Regions from separate parts of the Homo sapiens genome. Here region 2 is linked to region 1. The links come from fine-mapping of genetic effects on gene expression. A gene starts in region 1. The other region holds a variant in brackets. All regions are shown on one strand. Distances are from middle to middle.

Region 1 (5,389 bases):
ACCCACAAATCTGCCCTTTTCTGAATACTGACCCACGATAAGAGAGAGAAAGACTGAAGCTTAGAATGCTGTGGGACAGCAGCATTGCCGCAGCACCTGTGACTGAAAGACATTTTGCAAATCGCAAGGAAGACAAGTCTTCCATTGGCATCAGTGGAACCGGTGGAAGAAAACCAATTTTATTCTGAGTTGGATGATGGAAGAGTTGATTCAGTTTAAGGTCAAAGAAGAGCAGAACCAGAAATCAAGGCCTCAGGATGGGAACAAAGAACAATGAAGTCAGGGGGAAAAAAGGTGGCGGGGAGAGAGAGTGGGTAACAGACTTGAAACTAAGAATCACAAAACTTAAGCAAATGTTGAGACCTAGCAATTATGATGGGCAGTTTCTATAACCTAGCCTTAAGCTTAGACTTTTATTTTAAAGCAATAACCAAAACAAAAGAAATTAAGGAATTATATCACTGGAGGGAACCTTATGGGCAGAGACTTGAGGTTCAGAGTTGTGAAATAATGCTCTTACTATCACACAGCAAGTTAAGTGGGAGTCTCCATTTCCCTTCTCCCCATGCTTTCCTGCCCCTGCACTGTCAGGAAGGGTGGTGGAGAGGAAGGAGAAGGTACCAGGGCACCCGGGAATACATCACAGCCTGAGGACAGGTTATGCAGGTGGGGCCTTTATAGCTAGGGAAACACCGGAGAAGACAAGGGAAGTATGGCAGTTTCTTCCTTAGAGAAGACTTATAAGGGGGTTAAAGCATATGCTATGTGAAATAAACACCTGGAGATCCAAAACCCTCAGGTGGTAACTAATAATAAGAGAATCATGTTGGGATGCAGCATCTTCAGCGGGAAGCACAAGTTGCTCAACAAAGTAATAAAATAGATCAATAGGGTGCCAAATTTCTTGCCTCTATTACTTTCTCTTCTCAGAATGACACAGGAAATAAATGTAGCCAAGTCCCAAATCTGATCCCAGTACCCAAACTTTCATTAAAAGAGGGCTCCTGAAGGGGGGGAGTAGGTTTTTAATACTTAACGAGGCTATCAGCAAACAAAGAGAAGAGGCCCAGGTGGGCTCAATAGCCAGGTCACAAATGGTTGCCCAAAGAAAAAAACGGTGCAGAAGGAGACGCTTTGGGGAAGAATTGCTGAGGTCTTCGGGAGACTATAGCAGGCTGGCACTATGGAGATGTTTACCTGGACATTTAAGAAAATTGGAGGATGGAGTTGGGTGTCGGGCAGTGGCCTGCCAGAGGCTCTGTTTAGTCCTGGAAGCAGGAGACCTTTTGCTAAAATTCTGTCTCAGTTACACACATGCATTGGCTAAGGCTGTAGGGATTGGGGTGTGGAGACATCTTGCTTCTCCTTCCTCAGTTTGATTATTCAAAGGACATCTGGGAACCCTGAGGGTGGGAGAGTTTGGCCAAGGTTGGAGCGATGTCCCGTGTCTAGGACCCACCGCTATGGTTTGCAGGGAGAGAGCTAAAGGGACGTGAGCAGTGCAGGGACATTGACTGGGAAGCAGAGGGCGTGGATGGAGACACTCTTAACTTCACCTCAAAAGTAGCACAACTTTTAAACGAACGCCTTGCAGAGTCATACCGGCTTCCCGCTCAGATGATGGCTAAAATACAAGAGTTAACTAAAAGCCTCAGGAAGAAAGTTTATTGAATTGCATCTTATTTCTGTAGATTTCTTCCTTGCACTCGGAAGAGTTTGGTTAAAATGGATTGAGAATTTCGAGGCACGTGGCAAACAAACCTACCTTGTTCCCTCCCATTCCAGAAGCCCCTCACCTGATTTGGGAAAGTGTGGCCAGCTCCAGGGGCAGGCGCTGACCAGAACTACGGTCGCTCTTTCCTTGGTCCCCGAGAGCTTCCCAGTATAGAGCCAGCAGTTAGGACACCGTGACATGAAACTTAGCACCCCGCCCTTGAAGTCCCCCAAGCATGCCTGGCGGTCCGCGCGGACTCACCCGCGCCCCGGGCGCTGCGTCACGTCCCGCCGAGGGCCGGCTGCGCTGGTGCGGGTCTCCCGCCCGCCGCCTCGGCGTCCCGGCTGTGCGCCCTCACTCGCTGGGTCCGCTCCAGCCGCTCCCCATCGATCACCGCCGCGGCCCGGCAGAGCTGCTAGCGGCGCGCCGGTCCAGACGTCCTGTCACTCGCTGCTGCCTGGGGTCCTGGCTGTCAGGCGCTGGAATCATTGGCGAGGAGGCAGCTCCGAATTTATAGTGAGGGGCGTTGCTGCTTCTTGGGTTCCGGGGACGAGGCTCTGTTTTGCATTCCCTCCTCCTCCGCCCCGCCCCGGGAGACCCTCCCGGCCCAACCTCCTCCCTCTCGGGATATTGACGGCAGCAAGGATGATGCCACAGTCGTCCCGTGTCAACTATCAGATCAGCGTTCACCTGGTCCCGAACCCCGCCTAGCGAGGGGTCGTGAGGGAGAGCGAGCTGGGGGTACAGGAGTATCATTTCCTGCGGAGATTCGTGTTCTTCAACATTTTTTTTTTCTGAACTTGGAAAACTTTTAAGGACGAATTAGAGAACTTCTTTCTCTTTCCTATGAGTAACTCGAACTTTGGTAATACAGTTGTGGATCATAGATTACATGGATTAATTCCAGGGTTATGAAATTCAAGGGTGGACACTCATTTGTTCCTATTGGACATGCTACCCAAGTTGCATTTTAAAAATGTATTTTAAAAACCCAATAAATATTTAAAGAAGAAATAATATCAATTCTTCACAAACTCTTCCAAAAAATAGAAGAGTAAGGATGATCTCCCAACTCATGCTATGAGGCCAGTATCACCCTGATAACAAAACCAGATAAAGACATCACGAGACTACAGATCAATATTTCTTAAGAGTATAGATAAAAATTCTCAACAAAATGTAGGCAAATTGAATCCAATAACATATGAAAGGGACTATACACCATGGTCAAGTGAGGTTGATGCCAGAAAGCAAGATTAGATTAGTTTACCAAAAATCAATTAATGTTAGATAGGTGAGTAGGGTGACTGTAGTTTACAGTAATCTATTGTATATTTCAGAGTAGCTAGGAGAAAATAACTTGAATGTTTCTAGCATGAAGAAAAGACAAATATTTAAGGTGATGGATATGCCAATTGCACTGATTTGATCTTTATATGAATGCATTAAATTATTGCATGTACCTAAAAAGTCCTGTCACTCGCTGCTGCCTGGGGTCCTGGCTGTCAGGCGCTGGAATCATCGGCGAGGAGGCAGCTCCGAATTTATAGTGAGGGGCATTAAATTATTGCATGTACCTAAAAAGTGTACATCTATTGTGTATCAATAAAAATAAATTTAAAGAAGTAAAAAATGGACAAAGCCTACATGATTGTCTAAAAAAATTTTTAAAAACTATTGGACAAAATTCAACACTTTTTCATGCTAACACTCAACAAACTAGGAATAGGAACTTCCTCAAACTGTGAAGTTTATTTATGAAAAACTTAACTAATATCACACATAATAACGGAAGACAACGTTTTTATGTCTAAGATCAGGAACAAGACAAAATGTCTAGTCTTCCCATTTCTATTTAACTTTGTACTAAAGGTTCTAGTGAGGGCAATTGGACAAGAAAAAAAGATAAATGGCATCCAGATTAGAAAGAAAGTAAAACAATTTCTATTTGTAGATGACATGATCTTGTATTAAAAAGCCCTAAGGAATCAATTAATTAACTATTAGAACTAAGAAACAAGTTGAGCAAGTTTTTAGAATACAAGATCAATATACAAAAATCAGTTGTATTTCTATACACTAGCAATAAACAATCAACAAATGGAATTAAGAAAACAATTCCACTGTTGGCTTCTCACCACTTGCTGTGTGGGTCTGTGTCCTCTCCCTGCCTCACATGCTGCCATGCCTCAAAAAGTTAAGGAGATCAAGGACTTTCTGCTTACAGCCAGGTGAAAAGATGCCAGATCTGTCAAGGTCAAGAGAAATAAGGATAATGTGAAGTTTAAAGTTTGATGCAGCAGATACCTTCATACATTAGTCATCATAGACAAAGAGAAGGCAGAGAAACTGAAGCAGTTCTGGCACCCTGGTTTGTTAGAGAAGGAGATGAAATCAGACACACTGATTTGAACTGTGTTAAAAATTTAAAAATTCAAAGATAAAAACAATTTTACTTACTATAGATCAAAAGAGTAAAAATACTAAGAAATGACCTGGTGTAGTGGCTCACTCCTGTAATCTCAGCACTTTGGGAGGCCGAGGTGGGTGAATCACAAGGTCAGGGATTCGAGACCAGGCTGGCCAACATCGTGAAACCCTGTCTCTACTAAAAATGCAAAAGAAAAAAAAAAAAAAAAAGCCAGGCGTGGTGGTGCATGCCTGTAGTTCCAGCTACTCAGGAGGAGGAGGCTGAGGCAGAAGAATCGCTTGAACCCAGGAGGTAGAGGTTGCTGTGAGCTGAGATTGTGCCACTGCACTCCAGCCTGGGTGACAGAGTGAGACTCCATCTCAAAACAAACCAACCAACCAACAAAACAAAACAAAACAAAAAAAACCCTAAGAAATAAATTTAACAAAAGGATCTAAAACTTGTAGTCTGAAAACAAACAAAAAGAATTGTTGAAATAAGGTAGACCTAAATAAATGGAATGACATTCCATGTTCTTGGATTGAAAGATTTAATATCGTTACAATGGCATTAATCTTCAAATGATCTACAGGTTAAACAAAATCTCTATCAAAACCCAGCAAGCTTTTATTGCAGAAATGAATGGAGTTATCCTAAAAACATGTAGCAGTGCGAGGGGCCCAGAATAGTCAAGACAATTCTGAAAAAGAACAAACTTACCAATTTCAAAATTTACTGCAAAATTACAATAAACAAGACAATGTGGTACTGGCATAGCAATAGATAGAAAGATCAATGGAACAGAATTGTGTCCACAAACTAAACCCTTACATTTATGAGCCACTAGATTTTGAAAAGGGTTGAAAAAATGCAGAATGAGTAATCTTTATTACAAATGGTACTGGAATAATTGGATATCTGCATGCAGAAGAATGAAGTTGGACTCCTTATAATACCACATGTAAAAATTAAGTCAAAATGGATCATAGACCCAAGCTTAAGAGAAAAATTATAAAACTAAATAGAAAACGTAGGAGTAAACCTTTGTTACCTTGGGTTATGCAAAGCCATCTTAGATACAACTCCAAAAGCATAAGAAATACAAGAAAAAGTAGGTAAATTAATTTGATTTCATCAATATTAACAGCATCTATACTTCCAAGGGTATCAAGAAAGTGAAAAGAAAAAGCCAAGAATGTGCAAAGATATTTGCAAATTATATACCTGATAAGGACTTGTGTATAGAACATATAAAGATAATAAAG
Region 2 (5,389 bases), 40 kb after region 1:
CTTTTATGTATCACCACTCTGTTGGAAGCTTTACAGGGTAGAAATATGACAAATGTGTATGTTGTAAGGTTGACATATTTATAAACCGAGAATCCTAAAATATTGTGACATATGCAAAAGTGGAATTATGTACAGACTAGGAAAGTACATGGCAGGAATGGAGCCTGTTGGCAGAGTAATGCTTCACAGAAGCCTAGGAGCTGAGTTTTTAAGGATTAGTAAGAGTCAGTGAAGGAAAAAGTGCCAGAAAGGAGAGAAAATAGGTAGAGAAAATTAAGAATTATGAAGGATCAGCATGTGCAAACACATGAAGGCATGAAACTGCCTGGTGGAGCCGGGAAATTGCACGTAGGTTGTTATTACTGGAGCATCAAGTAAATAGGTGGAGAAATGTACTCATTAGTGTAATTGTTGCTACTATCATAAATACATCCTCAAATTTCAGTGACTTAACAGAACACAAATTTATTTCTTATTCATGTAAAAGACCAGTGGTAGTGTTCCTGACTGGTGAGTGCCAGTCTTCTACACCATGTAGTGACTCAAGGATCCAGATTTCTTCCACTTTGTGGTTCCGTTATTCTCTAAGACTTTGTCTCCCTGGTATTCAGCTGGCAAAAGAGGAGAGCGGGGGTGAGGAGAAGGCTCTTCTGTTTAAACTCTATTAGCACAGGAGCAACACATCTCACTTCTGTTGATAGTCCACCGGCAAGAACTAGTCACATCGACCATTCTTAAATGCAAGAAAAGTCAGGAAACGTAGACCCTAACTGACAGTAACTTTTCAATAACCACTTATATTATGGAAGGGAGGAGCACCAAGTTTAAGGATCAGCTAGCTGTCTCAGCCATGGGGAACTACTTATTCCTTTACTCATGCTGACTTCTCACTAATCAGTTTAACTAAAGTCTGAAATTAGGGCTGAGGAAGTGAATGGAACTCTTGGCTGATAGAGGGAGCATGGATAGTAGAAAGATCGTTATCCTTTCCACCCTTCCTGAAGCTCCTGATTTTTCCAGAGCAAGTATGGGTCCATCAAAGAAATGATGGCTTGAGAAGGTACACAAATGCGGCCTCTTGGAGAGGGGAGATATGGCTATTGGGGGAACAAGGTTAGGATGTCTGAATAAATTGAGTCCTCATTTAGTTAAGCCTTCGAATAGTTAATGTTCATTTTACTATTTCACTGATAGAGATCTCATGTTATTTTGTTTAGGATCAGTGTTTATTGTGAAATCATCTGTTCCACAATGATGACTTCAGGAATTTTAGACTGTAAAGCAAATGTTTAAACTTTCAGATTATGTGAAAACTTTCAATTATTTATGCATTGACTTACTTGTTTATTTAACAGTAGTTTCTAAGCACTTATATGCCAGGTGCTTGAAGAGAAACAAAGCTGTAAGCATATCTCTGGGTGGTTGGGTGGGATTTAGAAGAGTAGTTCTCAACATTTTTTTGATACCAACACTTCTAAGGATTGACACATATTCGCAGTGGAATTAATTTTCAACCTGCAAGATGTGCTGTTCGCTCCCATCCACCCTTGCCACGGGGATCAATGCCAAACCTCCAGTGAGGATCCTCTATATTTGCAACTTGACAAAGTACTATAAGTGATACAATATGATGTTCTTTGGCAGGTCATGTCTCCATCTTGTGTCCCACTGATAATTACTGATTCTGACATTCAGCTACCACCTCAATAAGGCTGAATGCATTCCACATGAGTAAGCCAGAGATTTCAGTAGATAGAATACAGGGGCTCTAGAAAGGAGAAAATGCAATAGGATATATTCAGAGTGTTGTAAGAGAGACAGCCATATCTCATTAAAAAATTGTTTTAAAAATATCATATACTGATTCTAGCTAAACCATCCAACTGTGTAGTAGCTACCTAATTACTAACGGTAGATTTTTGACAGGTATATCTATGTGGACATTTTTGTACCTGAAATCAAGAAGAAAAAAAAGATAATCATATGTGAATTCAAGATAAAAAAATACAAGGAGAAAGTTTCGGAACTTAATGTTTTTATGCAGTTTGACAATGTTAACGTGCTTGAGCTACTGTTGAATAAAAAGGCTGAATTACAATAGGTGTTGAAAGTGTTCAATGAAATAAATCCTGTTGAGTCTCAGGTCCTTTGAAGTGTGTATTATGCAATCACTAAGAACCGTTTGCTTGAAATCAAGTACTTGCCCTGCTTGTACTTTGCTATATACAATTTCACATTAGTTAGACGAATTAATAACCATTACAATTTCCAACTTCATTAGAGGTGGGGATTCTGTCTTGAATTTCTGTAGAAGGAAATAATTTGCTGCTATTGTGGATAGGTATCAATTGTCAACTCTAGTTCCATAGACCTGGTATAGTTGTTTTTTTTTTTTGTACCTTCTGTCAGTTTGAGGTCAGTTTCTTCTTATGAATGAGAAGCCGCCTTTGCCCTTCAAGAAAATGAAATAAAGCCAGAATAACCTTCCTGCTTCCCCTGCCTGCCTTCCCAG[T/C]CTAGTATTTCAGCATCTGAAGAGTTTATTTTTGGATGTCATTAAATATAGCTAGTGATCCTTTAAATGAAATGGATTAAATGGCAAATGGCTTAGCATCTTCTACCCTTCAGTCTAGTCACCTGAAAAAATTCACAATTCAAAATATGATTTATAACATAACCCTTCTTCATCTCTATTTCTATTATTTCTTGGGAAAAAAGTTTCCTTGCTGATAATGTTGAAGTGTATGCTGACGTTACTACCTTTCATCAATATCTTCTTATGGTAGTAAAGTGGCTACTTTTTAGTTTTCTCACCTGTTGTTTGGAATTTTCCATGGCTTCAAAGATTTTACAGGGGAAGAAAAAAACCATAATTTCCCCAAGACATATTTTGCCAATGGAGAGTTTTCTCCCTTTAGGAATTTTCATATGTGTATGATATTTTGAGCCATTTGTTTGTTAATTCTCACAATTTCTTACAAGTAGTCCTGTCTTCCAAAGCTAAAAATATACTGCAGCTACATATCCTAAGTGATAATGCATATATATACATATATATACTATATGCTATCATATCGTATACACATATATCTGATAAAATGATTTGAACACATTAATTATTAACAACTTTAATTTTTTTAAACTGAAGAACATTATCTCAAACACATCTTTTCTTTTGACAGTACAAAACTGAGGTCTTTTCTTGAATAATGAGATTCTGAATTGATTGGACACATGAGCAGGTATAGACCCAAATGTCATTGAGGGGAAATTTGGGTAAAATACAAGAAAAGTTTTCACTTTTAAGAGAACTGGTTTCTAATCTAATTTATTAGATTCAACAAATGCATATTGAGCACCATCTATAAGTCTAGGTGAGTATGAGAAGTGAAATTAAACATTAAAATATCTCTGGGCTCCTAGTCCCTCGGAAGTGACAATTTAGCAGCCACAAAAAGAATAAAATATCTGGGAATAGAGCTAAATAGGTAGGTGAAAGATCTCCATGGCACGAATTATAAAACACTGCTGAAAGAAAGTAGAGATGACACAAACAAATGGAAAAGCATTTCATGCTCATGGATAGGAAGAATCAATATTGTTATAAGGCCATTCTGCCCAAAGCAATTTGCAAATTCTATACTATTCCTAAAAAACTACCAATGTCATTTTTCACAGAATTAGAAAAAAAATTCTAAAATTCATATCAAACCAAAAAAGAGCCAAGTAGCCAAAGCAATCTAACCAAACAGAACAACACCAGAGGAATCACACTACCTCACCTCAAACTATACTACAAGGCTACAGTAACTAAAACAGCATGGTACTGGTACAAAAAACAGACACATAGACCAATGGAACAGGTTAGAGGACCCAGAAATAAAGCCACATACCTACAACCATCTGATCTTTGAGAAAATTCATAATAAGCAGTGGGGAAATAACATGCTATTCAATAAATGGTTCTGAGATAACTGGCTAGGCATATGCAGAAGATTGAAACTGGGCCCCTTCCTTTCACCATATACAAAAATCAGCTAGTAGTGGGTTAAAGACTTAAATCTAAGACTTAAAACTATAAAAGCCCTAGAAAACAACCTAGGAAATACCATTTTGGACACAGGCCTTGACAAATACTTCATGACAAGAAGTCTTCAGAAGCAATTGCCAACAAAAACAAAACTAGACAAATTAATTATTTGTCTATTTAGAAACCTAAATTGTTTGTCTATTTAGAAACCTAAAACTAAAGCATACTGTGCAGCAAGGGAAACTAACAACAGAGTAAACAGACAACCTACAGAATGGGAGAAAATATTTGCAAATTCTGCATCTGACAAGTTCTAATATGCAGAATCTATAAGAAATCTAAACAAATCAAAAAGCCAAAAACCCCAAACAGCCCATTAAAAAACGGGCAAAGAACATGAGCAGACAATTCTCAAAAGAAGACACATATGTGGCCAACAACCACATAAAAGAATGCTCGGCTGGGGTTGGTGGCTCAGGCCTGGCATGGTGGCTCACACCTGTAATCCCAGCACTTTGGGAGGCTGAGGTGGGAAGATCATGAGGTCAAGAGATTGAGACCATCCTGGCCAATATGGTGAAACCCCATCTCTGCTAAAAATACAAAAATTAGCTGGGCATGATGGTGCACACCTGTAGTCCCAGCTATTCAGGAGGCTGAGGCAGGAGAATTGCTTGAACCTGGGAGACGGAGGTTGCAGTGAGCTGAGACTGTACCACTGCACTCCAGCCTGTGACAGAGTGAGACTCCATCTCAAAAAAAAAAAAAAAAATGCTCAACATCACTAATCATGAAAGAAATGCAATCAAAACCACCGTGAGATACCACCTCACACCAGTCAGAACTGTTATTATTAAAAATTCAAAAAACAACAGATGCTGGCGAGGTTCCAGAAAAAAGGGACTCCTTATACGCTGTTAGTGAGGGTGTAAATTAGTTCAGCCACTGTGGAAAGCAGTTTGGAAATTTCTCAAAGGAAAAACAGAACTACCATTTGTCCCAGCAAACTCATTACTGGGTAAATATTAAAAAGAAAACAAATTATTCTACCAGAAAGTCACATGCATTTGCATGTTTATCACACCCCTATTCATAATAACAAAGACATGGAATCAATATAGGTGCCCATCAACAGCAGACTGGATAAAGAAAATATGGTACGTATACACAATGGAATACTATGCAGCCATAAAAAGGATGACATTTTGTTCTTTGCAGCAACGTGGATGCAGCTGGAGACCATTAACTCAAGGGAATTAATGTAGAAACAGAAAACCAAATACCACATGTTCTCACTTATAAGTGGGAGCTTAACATTACGTATACATGGCAACAGTGGACACCGGGGCCTCTTTGACAGGG

What was found. PIP is the estimated chance that this variant, and not a neighbour inherited with it, causes the effect. A credible set is the group of variants that fine-mapping cannot tell apart.
Region 2: its variant is the best candidate, but not a certain one, in a credible set for the expression of AGTR1 in fibroblasts (GTEx, PIP 0.83).

The regions. Positions count from the first base shown.
Region 1 is chr3:148,694,714-148,700,102 of GRCh38, reverse strand. AGTR1 (angiotensin II receptor type 1) reads right to left here and starts at 2,200. Exons shown (of 3, transcript NM_000685.5): 1 at 1,976-2,200. It also overlaps the pseudogene RPL38P1.
Region 2 is chr3:148,654,438-148,659,826 of GRCh38, reverse strand. No RefSeq gene overlaps it. Among named protein-coding and RNA genes, the nearest start is that of AGTR1, 41 kb to the left of the region's middle. The variant T/C (reference allele first, on the strand shown) is at 2,513.